Regions from separate parts of the Homo sapiens genome. Here regions 1 and 3 are each reported to be linked to region 2. Evidence: microRNA targets listed by miRTarBase, many of them from high-throughput screens and not tested one by one. Region 2 holds a microRNA gene; each other region holds the end of a gene's coding sequence.

Region 1 (5,110 bases), not on the chromosome of region 2:
GGCGGGGGAGGGGGCGGGTGGGGAAGCTGGGGCTGACAAGGAGCAGAATGGCTGCCTGCCACCCCCAGAGAGTGAGTCCAAGGTGTGACCAGCTTCCTCCAGACCCCTGTGGCAGACCGGGGGCCAGACACAGATACATGGGGAACTGCATATCGGAGGTGGTGGAGGAGGAGGAGGAGGAGGAAGGCAAAGCCCCTGGAAATGTGCTAAAGTTGGAAAGTCCCCGTCCCCCAGAACCTCAAGTCTAGAAACCAGTATGGAAGGGAGGGGTCCTGATTTCAGGGAAATGGAGGGTGGGGCCGGGTGAAAATGCCAGTCTGTGTTTGACCTTCACATTTGTTCATGAGTGGATGGATGGACAGAATGATGGACTTTTGGGGGTTGGATGGGAAGATGGTAGCAGATAAAGACAGCTGACAGATACATAGATGGACCAGTAGACAACTGGTCCACTCAGGGCTGCCACTAACCTGTAGAACACCCCTGTGCAAATTTTAAAAAGGAACCCTTTTCCTCCAGACAGATACAGCCCCAAACCAGGGTGCATGGCTTGGGGAGCAGAGTATAGGATGGATTGCAGTCCCCAGTCACCTCTTCTGCCAGCCTCCCCACATATGGCACAACTGTCTAATGACACGGTAGGCCAAGCTGAAGTGAAGGAGAAAGGAGCCGGACCAAGATGGGCACATGAGGAGGGTGCCCTCCTAGCTCCACCCTCACCAGGATGAAGGCGTGCAAGGGGCTCAGCAAGGTGTGAATGACCTTAGTCCGCAAGTTCAGGGAAGCAGGCAGAGCGGGGAGGTGCCTGAGCTGGGGCCTGGAGAGGGGCCTGGGAAAGGAAAACCAGGGATAGCTATTTTCTTACAGTGGAGTGAGATCTTACAGGTATCAGGCACAGGCAGGAAGAGAGAGAGAGAGGTTCTGGGGAGGAAGGGCCAGGAGAGAGATCTAGAAAGTGGGTTCACTAGAGCTGGGAAACAGGGAGCCCCTAGGAAAGCAGTGTGTCCTTGGGGCACAGTCATTCACATCACTGATTGGGTGCCATGTGGAGTGGACATTCAAAAACCTGGTTCCTGTCCTCAAAATAAGGGGCACCTGGGAAAACAGAGGAATCTACCTGTGGTGACTGAACGAGGGATAATTCAAACTGACAACCTGTGCAGTCCCGTGGAGGGTAGGGGAGTGTGGGTGATCAGAAGGCTGGGGCCAGTGTAAGGCATAGGGAATATGTAAGTCAGGAGTTAGAAATCTCCAGTGTGCGTTGGAATCACCTGGAGGGCTTGGTAAAACACAGATTTTTGGGCTCCACTCCAAGGGTTTCTGACCCAAGAGGTGGGGACCAAAACCATGCATTCCTAAGAAGTCCCCAGGTCATGCTGCTGTTGCTGGACTGAGGACCACACTTTGAGAACCTGTGCTCTAAGTGAATACTTGGAAGTCGTTTCAGGACATGGGGCATAGAAACTGAGGAGTAGCTGAGAGGAAGATGAAGAGAAGCTGAGAAGAAGCTGAGGATCCTCACAGGAGCAGACAGAGAAATGTGAAGGGTGGGGTTTTATGTGTGGGAAAGGGACCCGAAGCCCAGGCTGAAGAGTTTAACTTTGGGCCCAGAAACTCAACCATCAATGGAAACAGGGCAGTGACAAGTGGAGGGGGTGTCTGGAAGCTGAGCAGGCCCGACAGAGAGATGAAGCCATCAGAAGGACTTGAGGGGGCTCCTGGGGAGGTCGGGGGGAGGTGGAGCAGGAAGAGTTTTAGGGGCAAAGGACAGAACCCCTTGTAGGACTGGAGGCAAGATTGAATGTGGGAGAAAATCGGAGAGAAGCGATAGGAGTTAGAACATCTGGATGTGTCTGCAGCCTGCTGTCAGCCCAATTGGGCCAGGGGGTCCCAAAGACGCATATTCTCACCCCACCTCCACCTGCTTCCTGATCACATCCCAGTCACCAGCGGCAGCTTCCTGGATAGTGAGGGAGAACAACTGCAAGTTGAGAGAGGCAGAGGGGTGGAAGGGACCTGAAGCTGGCCTGGAGAAAAGCATAGGCCCAGGAGAGCCTGCCCTGGGACAGCGCCTGTCTCCCACACAGCAGCACTGGCCCAGCAAGGACCTCCTCCCTTGGCCCTGGCCACATCCCACTCCTGCCCTTTCATAAGCCCCCTGGGGAAAGCACTCCAGTCTTCTCTGTTCCAGGCTGGGCAGATAGGGTCCTATGGGGCACAGCCAGGGTCCTATGGGCATAGCCAGGGCCCTATGGGTCCTCTGGAAGCAAGAAAGGGGGCCATGGAAGCAGCCCAGACAGCTGGGGTTCACTCAGAGAGGACCCAAGTCCCAGTCCCTTCCTTTCAGTCAAAACACGGATATCTTTGCCTCAGGTCACAGGGCCACTGGGGCCCTGTCATCAAAGATGAGATTCCTGAAGCCTGGCATTGACTGGTCCCCTAAGAACAGATGTTGGGATGGAGAATGGGGATTCATTTGGGTTTCAGTAAAACAGGGGGGTCTGGACAAGAGCGGGTGGGCTACTTGGTATCCACACACACGCACTCACACAGGAGCCAACCCATTGCAGCTGAACAAGCAGAGAAACTCAGTCTGGAAAGGCCCCTCCTGCCTGCTGAAGTCACTGAGACCCTGCCACACCTCTCCTCGCCACTGTCACCACTCAGGGCACCACTGTACAGTGCAACAAGTCAGGAGACCTAGGTCCTACTCCTGACACTTGCTAATTAGCTCTATGACTCTGGGCAAATCGCATATCTGGGCCTCAGTTTCCTCATCTGTAAAAATGACAGCAAACTCGTAATGCTCAATAAATGTTTAAATAACAACTGAAGGAGGCCTGCCAGATGCCTCTTAAGGTGCCGTGCAGGTAAGAATTTTAGGATCAGAGAATCCTTAGGCAAGAAAATTCATGAAACTCCTGGGGCACTGGAGGAGGGGTGAAGCTGAAGGGTGGGAGGGAGGAGACCCCAGGGTAGGTACAGGCAGGTGAAGCGGGTATATGCAGGTGTAGTGGGTATATGCGGGTAGAGGGTATATGCAGGTACAGCGAGTACATGTGGGTGCAATGGCTCTGTGGACACACAGGCCCTCCCCTGACTGCCTGTTGTCCCAGCCTGAGTATCAGTTGTGTTCTGAGGCTTCTATTCTGCTGCTATGGGTCAGAAGGAACAACAATTTCAGCCCCAGGGCCTAGTGGGAGGAGTCAGGTCCAAGACTAGCCTGACCAGGAGAATGAGACGTGGGAAGAGTTGGGGAAAGTCTGGGAAGCTCAGAAAAGGCACTGCCCCTGGAGGCCCATGCCCTTTAACATGGGAGAAGCTGGTGCGGGGGTGACCACAGGCAGCTGGAACCTACCCTCCTTTTCTATGCTTCCCTCCCCAAGTAGGAGTCCAATCAGGAGTTGTCTCAGCCCCGACAGTTCAGGCTGCAGATGGAACCCAGGTGTCCCCTCCTGGGGTGGGTGGCATGGCCCATGGAGGCCAGATGGTGTTTGTGGTGGGAAGAGAGGCCTGGGTCATCCAGAATAGGTTGTCAATCCCCAACCACCTCCCTACTATGCACCCTGAGCGTTTTACAGTCTCATGGTAGGGAAGACACAGCCAAGCCTGCTTTTTATAAAACAAGTTTATTCACATTTTAGAAAAACTAATTCCAGGACAGGAAATGGCCTCCCTATAGGATCCCTAAGAGATCAAGAACAGAAGGCCAGAGGGAGGGGCTTGGGAGGGAAGGAGTGGGGAAGGGGAGGCACGTCTCCCATTCTGGGTAGTGGGAGGTCAAATAAATTAAAGGAAGAGTGGACAGAGGGAGAGGGTGTCCAGGCAACCAGAGGAGGGCTTGGAGCTGGGCCGGAAGACAGTCGACACCTGCAAGACCTGAAAAGGGTGCCCGGTGTGGGCTAAGGACAGAGAGCCCTGAGTGGGGCTCCCTCGCGGCCTCCACCCCTTAACAGGGCCCTGTGGATCTGAGCTGCCTACTCCTCCTCCAGGTGGGGCCTGGGAGGGAGCAGCTTGGTTCAGGACTTGGGGGTGGGAAGCCCAATGAAAACAAGGTTGGGGGGTTCTTTTCCCTCACCTGGGGAGTAAGGGATCACCGTTTTCGAAGCCTCTTCATGAAGCAGCAAGTGATGGTACCAAGGACAGTGGCACCAGTGACTAGGGCCACCCCTGTACCCACCAGCAGAGGCACAAATAGGGTGTCCAGGGCTGGGGGAGAGAGGATGACTGTTCAGAGAGGATGCCATCATCCTCCACCCATACACTTGCCTCTGCGCTTTCCCCATCAAGTTCTCTGAACCCACCTTCTCCATTCACAGACACCCCCATCCCTGCCCACAGCCTGCCCCCTCAGCATGCAAGTCAGCATCAACCACAGAGGACCCCGTGCAGGTGGGCACTGCAGGGCTGGAAGTTGGATTTTTTGAGACTTCATGTGACATAATGTGGAGGAGAGAGATAGTAGCAGGAGGGTCAGAAGATGGGAAGGGAAGGCCAGTGGCAGAGGCCAGGAGGAAGGCAGAGTGAGGAGGGTGGAGGGGGTGTCACTCACCATGCATGTAGGGGTAGACTGTAACAGGCCCTGAGCGGGCACTGCCCGCCTGGTACCAGCTGTAGTCGGCATGCTGCACCCAGGCGCTGGGGGCACAGTGGTACACGCCTTCATCCTCGGGCCCCAAGCTGTGTAGTCTCAGCCGATGGCTTCGGGGCCCCACCAGCTCTACGCTGACAGGGCCTCCTCCAGGCCGGACTCCCAGCTCTGCCACACCATCCTGGCCTACGCCACCCACCAGCTGGGCAGGGACAGAGCTGAGCTCTCCGTCCTCTGGTCGCTCCACCCACCAGCTGGCGGCCAGCCGCAGTCCTGGGGGGCCACCCCGCACAGAGATGTTGCACAGCAGGGAGGCAGTCTCCCCGCGGTACACTGTGCCTCCTGCTAGCCATGCCACAGCCTCCAGCACCACACCTGCAGAACAAAGGACATGGGGTCAGAGGGTGCAGGGCCAGGGAGCATGGGGTTAGGGCTGCCGCCAAGCACCGCCCCAGGAAACTCAGGGTATTCCCACAATCTTGGTAGAAGAGGAGCGTGAGGCTGTGGCCTGCAAACAGC
Region 2 (5,110 bases):
ATCTTGGTGCACTGCAACCTCTGCCTCCTGGGTTCAAGCGATTCTCCTGCCTCAGCCTCCTGAGTAGCTGGGATTACAGGTGCGTGCCACCATGCCCGGCTAATTTTTCGTATTTTTAGTAGAGACGGGGTTTCACCGCGTTGGTCAGGCTGGTCTCAAACTCCTGACCTCATGATTCACCCGCCTTGGCCTCCCATAGTGCTGCCACCACGCCCGGCCCTCGAGTTTATTATGATTTCCAAATACCTCATCTCTGTGAGCAATCCCTTCTCAAAGACCCCAATGACTCTTTTTCTGATCCCCTTGGGACCCCAGTGACTTCTCTCTCTGACTCCTATGATCCCAAAGACACCAATGCACGAATTCACTCTTGACTCAAAAGATTTATCCTAACTCCTGTGATCCTCAAATACATCAACCCTCATGATCTCAATGGTTATGTTTGCCTTCCCATTGACCACCAACAGCCATATCTCTCTAACCTCCCCTGACCTCAATGGCCCCATCACTGATGCCGTCATGACTCCAGTGACCCTCAATTCTCTGATCTTAGTGTCTTTGTCTCTGGTTCCCCTGGGATCCCATGTCCTTGACCCCTTGGACCTGCTCCCTCCAGCCTGGTGCCCTCATCTTGGCCCCTCACTAGCCCCTGTTCCCCTCCAGGTTACCGCTGCTTCAAGGCAGTGCTCTTTCTCACTGGGTTGCTGTTTGGCTCGGTGGTCATCTTCCTCCTCTGCTACCGAGAGCGGGTGCTAGAGACACAGCTGAGTGCTGGGGCGAGCGCGGGCATCGCTCTGGGCATCGGGCTGCTCTGCGGGCTGGTGGCCATGCTAGTGCGCAGCGTGGGCCTCTTCCTGGTGGGGCTGCTGCTCGGCCTGCTGCTCGCAGCTGCTGCCCTGCTGGGCTCCGCACCCTACTACCAGCCAGGCTCCGTGTGGGGTCCACTGGGGCTGTTGCTGGGGGGCGGCCTGCTCTGTGCCCTGCTCACTCTGCGCTGGCCCCGCCCACTCACCACCCTGGCCACCGCCGTGACTGGTGCTGCGCTGATCGCCACTGCCGCTGACTACTTCGCCGAGCTGCTACTGCTGGGGCGCTACGTGGTGGAGCGACTCCGGGCTGCTCCTGTGCCCCCACTCTGCTGGCGAAGCTGGGCCCTGCTGGCACTCTGGCCCCTGCTCAGCCTGATGGGCGTTCTGGTGCAGTGGAGGGTGACAGCTGAGGGGGACTCCCACACGGAAGGTAAGGGGGCACAGGCCAAGGTGGACATGAGAGGAGTGGGTGGCCAGGGATGGGTTGGGGGCCAAGTGACTGGGGAGTGGGGGACAGCAGCAGAAGGCCTCGATGGCGGTAGAGAGCTGACTTGCTCAGGGTCTGGGAGGATAGCACCCAGGTGCCATCATTCATTCCACAACAACATATGGAGTGCTGGCTCCGCACCAACCCCATTCCAGGCACCAGGGATACAGCAGAGATAACACAGACAAGGTTCCTGTCCTTATGGATTCAAGGCAGGCAGGAGACAGATAACAGAGATGCAAACAAACATGATTCCAGTTGTGTAGAGTGATATGACAGAGACATTGTGCAGGATAATGTGAAAGAATGACCTATGGAAGCTATTAGAGTTAGGGTGGTCAGGGAAGGCTGCTTGAAGGAGGTGATATGTAAGCAGGCACTTGAAGGCTAAGGGGCCAGCCATGCAAAGAGCTAGAGAAGAGGGAACAGCAAGGGCGAGGGCCCTGAGAAGGAATGAGCTCAGCTTGCTTGAGGAAGTGGGGCAGGAGTATGGGAGGTGAGGTGTGGGAGCCAGAGTGATTGCGTGGACCCTCTGGGTCATAAGAAGCACTCCACATTTTATTAGAAGGGCAATAAGACTTTAAACCACTGGAGAGTTTAAAGTAGGGGAGGATAGAATCTAATTTAGCTTTTGGGATGCTCATTCTGCTGCCGAGTGTAGAAAGCATTGGAGGGAGCAAGTGTAGGGGGAAACCAGTGAAGAAGCAGCTGTGATTGTCCAGTGGAAAGATGATGATGGCTGGCCTAGGTGATTGGGAGAGGGATGACAGCCTGGAAGGGGGTACCTGGAAGCCTAGCAACCTTCCATAAAGACCTATGGAAGAAAAGAACAACAGCGGGAAGTCTCCTCTGAGAGGTAGGAGACCAGGAAAGGAAGTGACAGGGTGGGAGTAAGGGGTTATGGACAAGAGGAATCTGGAAGCCTAGAGCCACAGGTGGGATGAGAGAGGGAGGGCTCAAGGGAAACAAGGCGCACCGTCCTCTGAGCTCCTTCTCTACCCATCCCACCACAGTGGTCATCAGCCGGCAGCGCCGACGCGTGCAACTGATGCGGATTCGGCAGCAGGAAGATCGCAAGGAGAAAAGGCGGAAAAAGAGACCTCCTCGGGCTCCCCTCAGAGGTCCCCGGGCTCCTCCCAGGCCTGGGCCACCAGACCCTGCTTATCGGCGCAGGCCAGTGCCCATCAAACGCTTCAATGGAGACGTCCTCTCCCCGGTGAGCTCCCTGAGCCCATCCAGCCAGAATGAGAAGGAAGTGTGGAAACTCTTTCCAAACAGGACTGGGCTTTCCCCACGGGCTGGTTGCTATCTAGAAGGCCTGTTTGTCCATGAACTGTTTGTCCATGCATCGGAGCCCATGCACCAGGGGCTTGGCGGGTCCAGCTGGTGGGGGAATTGGGGGAAAGGTTCCTGAGTATGGGTTTTAAGTGGGATATGGTATGTGGTGGGGTCTCAGGGCTGTGGACTCTGGGTCTATGGCAGTCTATAGAAGTGTCAGGCTTGTGGGAATTCAGGAAGAGGTGGCTTTTAGGGCAGGATTCTGCGGTGGGACTCACACCTATGTTTGCTCCCCCACAGAGCTATATCCAGAGCTTCCGAGACCGGCAGACCGGGAGCTCCCTGAGCTCCTTCATGGCCTCACCCACAGATGCGGACTATGAGTATGGGTCCCGGGGACCTCTGACAGCCTGCTCAGGCCCCCCAGTGCGGGTATAGCCATATCTGTCTGTCTAGACTCTGCAGTCACCAGCTCTGCCAGCTCGAGGAGGCCTGCTAGGCTGCCACTCAGCCTCCTGGCTTTGGCTGTCCCTCTCCCCAGCCTGGAGAGGGCTGGCCTGGTCACTAGAAGGGAGGATTGTCTCAGGCGAGTCTTGGCCTGAGAGGAAAGCCCCCTCCCAAGCTCCCAAGAGGCTCCTGAGGAACTCGGGGTGTGAACCCCATTGGGGTGTGCTCAGGGTTGTGAGTGTGTTGCCCGTGTGTCTGTGTGTATGTGTGTGGGGGTGGGCAGGCTTGGAGGGGACGCTGGGACCCTTGCCTTAGATTTCTGACTGGTAGGGTTTCTCCAGGCTCAGCCCCACCTCTTCACTCCCTGCCAAGGTCCCATGGGCCACCTCCTGCATGTCTCCGCGGAGGGGCTACCTTCCTTCCCATCGCCCTGCCTCGCAGCCAGACTCATCTAAGGGTTCTTGTCCTTGTCTATGGGGCAAACTGTAGCATCCCTCACCCTGGTCCCCTGGCCTCTGTAAAGCCACCAGCCTGAGGGCAGTGGCAGGAGATGGGGGTGGGGGGGTGCTGCTCTGGGCTGGGTTGGGAAGGGAGTTGGGGAGGGGTTTAAATGCACGGTGCATGTCTGGTGTCTGTCATGCCAACCTAGACACCTCATGCTTCTGTCTCCCCCACCCCACTCTGTTTTACATCTTTTATAAATGTGCCAAACTGTGTGGCCTCTGCCAGGAATGGTGGTCTTTGGTGGCTGGCACTTTCATGGGCCAGGTACAAGCACTACAGCCCTCGGTCCCCAGTGTCGCTCACTGCACAGGGGCTCCAGGCAAGGTCTGCCCCCCCACATCACTCAGAGAGGCAAGGAAATGAGCTGTAGCACTTTTATTGTTCCTTGTCTCTCTACCCCTGCCCAGGGTAAGGGCAAACGCCTTCCAAGCTGTCCAAGGGCACCCGCCTGGCCTGGTTAGGTTCTCCTAGTTGCCTGCAGAGGAATGACTCCACATGGGGCTGGGGAGAGAAGGGGGTACCACCTTCCTCTCCCCTGGCAGAGCCTGGACACCAGTACACAAAGAGCTGGGCCCCCAGGTTCTGCCCTACCCTTTCTGGGCCTTGGTTAGGGCTGTCTTGGCGGCAGGAAGGTGGGGGTCAGCTAGGGGTGGGGCACAGCGCGGCACCTGAAGGGAATGCTGGGATTTGGGATAGAAGGTGGGATGTCTCTTATGGGGAAGAGGAAAGAAAGAGGCTTCTGCCAAGGCTGACATGGAACTTGCTGAGATGGGCAGAGGCAAGCTGGGCAGAGGGCAGGAAGGAGGAGGGACAGGCTGGAGGAAGGCAGTGTTGGTGAAGTGGGGAGGAAAGGAACTGGTAGAAACAGGGCTGTTCAAGAGAGACAAACATGGTCCAGTGGCAGGAGAGAGGAGAAGCCTGGCAAGAAGGGGCGTAGAAAGGTGGGAACAGCTGACCAGGAGCAGCTGATCTGAGCCAAGCAGTTCCAGGGCTTTCCAGCCCTGGGTGTGCTCTACCCCTCCCCTCCCCCATCCCCACCTCCTACGTATCCCAGGACCCGTTGCCACCCCAAGTTCTGGAAAGCCTCCCATAGGTGTGGCTTAACCCATCAGCTCCCAGGCGCCCTCACCCTCCTGCCGCTGCCCAGTTGGCTTTACTCACCCTCTACCAGCAGCCGTGTGTGGGTGCTGTCCTGGCCGGCCTGGCAGCAGTAAGTGCCTTGGTCCTCAGGTCGAACGTCATGGATGACCAGGCTGTGGGTGGGGCCGTGGCTGCGCATCTCATACTTATCTCCCGGGCACAGCTCGGCCCCCTCCCGCAGCCAGCACACGTGGCCCCCCGAGCGGGACACAGTCACCTCCAGCACCGCCCGGCGGCCCACCAGAACGGTCTTCTCGCGAGGGGGGTGGCGGCACATCTGGAGAGGCAATGCTGGGGGTAGGGGGCGGGGGCTTAAGTTAATAGGGACACGCATGGCCCCCAGGAGGAGAGATGCATCTTCCCTCCCTGAAGTCTCCACTCCTGGCCTTAGCCCTCTATGCCACCAGTCCGTTCCCTTGCACCTCAGACCCAAAGTCTCCTCTTG
Region 3 (5,110 bases), not on the chromosome of region 2:
TTTCTTCCTCAGCCTTCTCTGCTCCCCACACCTATATGTTGATGATGCCCAAATCTCTGTCTCCAGCCACGACCTCTCTTTCCCCAAGCTCCATTTGCATAAACTGTCTCTGATGAGATTTAGGGCGCTTACGGTGGTATGGCTGTAGACAACTGTCTCAGGAAACAGACCCATGACCCACCCAGTTGCCAAGTCAGAAACAGGATGTATACTCTTGACTTGTCTCTCTCCCCTACACAGCAAAACAATCCCAAGACATGTCAATTCTATCTCCTGAGCAACCCATAAAACGATTTCTCTTCTTTCCATCTTCCATTACCCTAATTCTGGTGTTCATTCTCTCTCCCTGGGATGGCTGTAAAAGCCTCTGATTTCTCCCCTTTCCAAACCAGTCTCCACACTGCAACCATAGTGATCTAAGGCACAATTCTCACCTTTTCAGTCTTAGGCTTAAAGTTCAACATCCCTCTGGATACAGTCTAAATCTTTAACACGGCTGAAAAGGCCCAGCAAGAGCTGGACCAAGCCCACCTCTCCAGCTTCACCTTTCCTCATTTCTCCTTTGCACCCTCTGCCTCTGAACAAGTTACAGTCTTCCAAAGTTGTCATGTTTCTTGACCTTTGCTGTCTCCTCTGCCCAGAATGCAATTTCCCTGTCTGGCTAACTCCTGTCCAGCATTTGGCCTCAGCATGGACATCTGTTCCTCTAGGACGCTTCCCCTGATTCACCAAGACCAGCTTAACTGCCCCTACTGGCTGTTCCTATAGCAATTCTTTACCACAGACTACTGATTTTTTGTGTTTGTTTTGTTTTGGCAGTCTGACATAACTTTATACTAATGCAGCTTCTAGCCCTGTCCCCCACTCCTTCCTGATCAGTATCCCAATGTCCCTCCTATATGGAGCCACCACTACCCCACAGGATCCTGTACCACCCTTCTCCCAGAACTTATCACACTTTTTTTTTGTAATTGTGTTTCCATTCTCCAATAAATTGTGAGCGCCACAAAGAACCATTTCTATCTCACTTACCACTTGGAAGTGACTGGCAGGTAGTAATTGCTCAACAAATGTTCTATGAGTGAATGAATCCTTGGGATAATTATAGTACTAACCATCTTATTTAGTTATGACAGTTCAATAGAAACACGTAAAATAATGCTTTTATAGTTTACATACTGCTATAGAGCTATTGTATTATATTATTATTATTCTATTCCTACCCTCTATTGCTTGAGAGTAGGATATTGCCTTATTCAATTTTGGTTATTGTCCCAGAACTCAGGGATATATGTCTGGCATATATTGTTTTTAACCAATTTTTGTTGACTGTATCAATGATTGTAAGAAGTGAACAAAGGGCCAGATAATTGAACTATCCTGGACCACACACAGCTACCCTGTTCCAGAAGCAGGACTATAATCCCATCTGGAAAAAGGGAAACTTGGAAGTTGACATCTAAATGAAATTCCAGCATGGATGAGAGAAGCCCTGATTTCTCTCCATCAAGAGACTAGCCAGCTATGGAAGCCACCAGAGCCCCAGACCTCCATGGTCAAGTATTCACATAGTAGACATGACCCAGACAAGAGGGTGCGTATTTCAGCGTGGAGGGGAGACTGGGCCCTTGGTTTCCTGTGTCTTTGTAGTCAGTTCTAACCTCAGCCTCAGGCACTGGTGTTGGGGCCCTATTCATCCTCATCTGCACGTCCCTCAGTTCTTTTCCTGTTGCTATTATCCTATAGAGTCAGCAAGTCATGGAAGAGGTTTTACAGTCTAACCCTGTGGGGGTGTCAGGAGTTGCCTCCTGCCAGGTCTTCAGCATAAAAATCCCCCCTCCTCAGCTCCCAGTCAATTCTTCATCCCCACCCCTAGACTCTCCCAAATACCCCTGATGAAACCCCTGAGGTGGAAAAAGATAAAGACAAGCAAAGATAAACAGCACAGGAAGCAGAGGTACAAATAGAATTCTGATTTTTCTCCTTTCTCTCCATATTTTGAGGAAATGAATCCAATGTCCTCACCCCACCTCCTGCAGCGGAGAAGTCCCCTGAGCATCTCTGAACATCATGAACCCTCAAAGTAAGCTTAGCTTGGGCCCCTTTTCCTTTTCTATCAGTGAGGCCAAAGAGCCCCAGATGGGAGACAGGTGGATTTTTCTCTCAGCTGGGACCTTTTCTCTTTCTTGTCTAGCACATTTTGGGAAACCTTCAAGTACATTCTCATGCTGGTATTATTTAAACTTTGCACTGGAGTGAATTCCAGGAGTTATGTCCACACTGAGACCAATGGAGATGAACCTAAAGCAATATGTGGCCAAACACCTTAGCCTCTTTAAATATACTTTCCTTTGCTCCTTGGTTAACAGGGTCTGTCTGCTCGCATTAGAGAAACTGCCCAGTGACTCAGATCCTGAAAGGATCTGCTTTAGAGAAAAAAGGAGTCTGGTACTTCTCACTCCATCTAGTGGGCAACCTGTCCAACTACACTTTTTGCTATCATCCAATACAGACAACACTGGCAGTCAATAAAAAAGCTCATTCTCCCATTTCTAAAAGAATTCAATCTAGGAGTCTAGCTGCTGGCTTAACAAAGGGATATACAGCAAAGCCTAAGGTGCCCTGACTCACGAGAGAGCTGATTTCTGCCGAAATGCTGAGGTGAAACCCTAAAATGGTTCTGGCCACCTGCTAGGTTCTAGCTCAGACCCTGCACTGGATCATCTTTGTTCCACCCCCAAACCAGAGTAAATGGAATTCAGGAGGCTGGTTCTGTGCCCGCCCCTATGTACCTCAAATACTCGTAGCTGCCAAGCTTTTAAACAATGAAACTTAACACTGTACTTAAAGGGCTGTTCTGCTCAAATCATAAATGTGCACGCTAGTTGTTCACCAGTAATTAAAACTACTCGTACACATTTAATCAACATTTTCACAAGCGTTTTGCCTTAACTAAAAATTTGTATCAACATGAAGTCCTAGAATTATACTGCATGAGCCCCCAGGATTTGGAGAACATCATTCACCCTTCTTAATCCAAAAACTTGGGTGCCTGAAGGTGGGGTTTTGATCATGGCCAGGCTTCAAATTTAGGTCAGGCTCTGGTGGTACATCCTTATATGCTTGGTGCTCAGCACAGGTCAAGACACACAATAGACCCTCAATAAATATTTGCTGAATTTGAACAATTCCTGTAAAAATCTCATTAAGAGACATCAGCTTGGGACACAGTTCCTCTCTTACTGTTCCTTCTCCCAGAAGCTCCTGGAATGAGCAGGTCTGGCGGCAGGGGGCACACAGGGCTGCTGCTCAAATCGGAGAATGGCACAAACTCCAAAAGGGAGCTGGATTTAGACCTCCCCTCCCCATGTAGATAACGGGATTCCTAAGGTGCAGAGTGGGAGAATGGGTAGAGGAAGCAGGTTTCAGAGACTGAGAACCTACTAAACTCCTAAGAGAACTTTCCCTTGCAAAGAGAATGCATGAAAAAAGAAGGGAGAAGAGGAGAGAAGCCTCCCACAGCTGTTAGCCTGGAACAGCCGCTCTCACCTCAGTTCATCTGGGGAAGGGGCTACAAAGCAAACAATCTTTATTCACAATTGGGGTGGCAGAGGGGAGATACCCCCAGGTCAGTCCAAAAGCAAAGATACTGGGAGGGAAGATGGCGCTGGGCGAGGAACTCAGCACTCATCCTCACCCAGCAGGGCATAAGGGTTTCGGCCAGCCAGGCTGGACCCTGGAGCCGAGGTTGGGGTCTCCTCATCCCCTTCTCCCTCCTCATCCGCATCCCGGTCCTCCTCTCCCTCCTCCTCACAGGAGCTGCTCAGCTCTTCCTCTTCCTCCTCCTCCTCGTCACCTGCTGGCCCCACCCTGCCCTGCAAAACCACCAGCTCCGTGGTCTCTGGATGGGACTCCCAGGTGCCTGGGGAACCAAAACAAGAAAAAAATGGAGGAGAGTTTTGAGCAAGAACTAAAGCCAAGGAAAGATGGGGAAGAGGCAAAGACTAGGAATAACAATAATCTTTAGAGCTGCTGGCATTCATTCATTCATCCATTCATTCAACTTCCTATGTGCAGATTGCTGAACAGAACCTTTGTGCACATCAACTTCAATCTTTACAATCACTATGCTAAGGGTCAATTATTACCCTCAGTTTGCAGATCAGGAAAATATCACAGATGTTAAGTAACAGAGCTAGCCAACAGGTACAGAATCCAGGTTTGACCCTCTCTCTGGCCACAAAGCCCACACCCTTTTACCTACGCTATAGCAGGGGGCTGGGGAAGAATATCTGGGCTCTGACCTTTCTGTTCACTGTAGCCTGGGGGATGAAAACACAGGCTGAGGCGGCCGTCCACTGCCAGCCGCAAGAGACTGTTGGCTGCTCTGTACACATCATTCCGAGCCGCCTTGGCTGTCTTGTAACCACGTTTCTCTGCCCAGGCTGGAGGAAGAAAAGAATAATGGAAAGGGAAAGCATTAACCAGGTACCAGTTATACTCCCACTCCCATAACACAGTCCTTCCAGTTTTCCCCAAAACATTCCAGGCCAGAGATCTTACTGGCTATGCAACAAAAATCTAGGGGTGAGTGGACAGCAGCTTCATCAATGGCAGAATCTCTGAGGAGAGGAAAGGAGACAGGGAAGGGTAAAAGGCGAGGCAGGTAAGGAAGAGCAGCTGAAACCAGGTGGGGCGAAGCCAGGCACATGGAACTCACCTTCACAGATGTCCCAGGCACACCAGGGGTGTTCCGCTGAGGGGTCCTCAGCCTCTGGGTGGCGCAGGTGGAGCAGGGCCTGCACGGGAATTCGGGAGGCCAGGTAGCCCACAGCAGTGTAGGGCTCCTGGATCTGGGCGATAGGGTAGATCCCTGCCAGAACCTGAGGGAAATGAGCACTCAGTACTTTCCTCAATGTCCCACCTTCTCTCTTTCCCTTACCCACCCTCCCCGTCATACCTGCAACTGCCTAGGCAGAAGAGATGGGAAGATGAGGCCTGGGCAGTCACAGAGCTTCACAGAGGGGGTAAGAAAGTAGGTCTGAAAGTATCGGGTATGGCCCGGGGTTCTGGAGACACTCACGACTTTCCGCCCCACCAGCCCATTGAT

Evidence for each region. The annotated mature microRNA hsa-miR-3132 reads UGGGUAGAGAAGGAGCUCAGAGGA and lies in region 2 at 2,275-2,298, opposite strand. An mRNA with a match to its seed (bases 2 to 7 or 8) in the 3' UTR can be bound and repressed. Matches are read on the target gene's strand: a 7mer-m8 pairs with bases 2 to 8, a 7mer-A1 pairs with bases 2 to 7 and ends in A, and an 8mer does both.
Region 1: miRTarBase lists IGSF8 as a target of hsa-miR-3132. Seed matches in the 3' UTR shown: 7mer-A1 at 3,767-3,773.
Region 3: miRTarBase lists GNL1 as a target of hsa-miR-3132. Seed matches in the 3' UTR shown: 8mer at 3,407-3,414.

The regions. Positions count from the first base shown.
Region 1 is chr1:160,087,730-160,092,839 of GRCh38, forward strand. It overlaps IGSF8 (immunoglobulin superfamily member 8), which reads right to left. Exons shown (of 7, transcript NM_052868.6): 5 at 4,553-4,966; 6 at 4,079-4,209; 7 at 3,614-3,879. The coding sequence ends at 4,094. KCNJ9 (potassium inwardly rectifying channel subfamily J member 9) reads left to right here. Exons shown (of 3, transcript NM_004983.3): 3 at 1-2,834. The coding sequence ends at 88. Among named protein-coding and RNA genes, the nearest start is that of IGSF8, 8.3 kb to the right of the region's middle.
Region 2 is chr2:219,546,843-219,551,952 of GRCh38, forward strand. MIR3132 (microRNA 3132) reads right to left here and starts at 2,305; the gene lies at 2,231-2,305. It overlaps TMEM198 (transmembrane protein 198), which reads left to right. Exons shown (of 5, transcript NM_001005209.3): 3 at 664-1,239; 4 at 2,310-2,512; 5 at 2,875-3,753. The coding sequence ends at 3,012. OBSL1 (obscurin like cytoskeletal adaptor 1) reads right to left here. Exons shown (of 21, transcript NM_015311.3): 20 at 4,687-4,956; 21 at 3,886-4,000. The coding sequence ends at 3,993.
Region 3 is chr6:30,542,392-30,547,501 of GRCh38, forward strand. GNL1 (G protein nucleolar 1 (putative)) reads right to left here. Exons shown (of 12, transcript NM_005275.5): 9 at 4,961-5,110; 10 at 4,721-4,883; 11 at 4,305-4,445; 12 at 1-3,922. The coding sequence ends at 3,681. Among named protein-coding and RNA genes, the nearest start is that of GNL1, 12 kb to the right of the region's middle.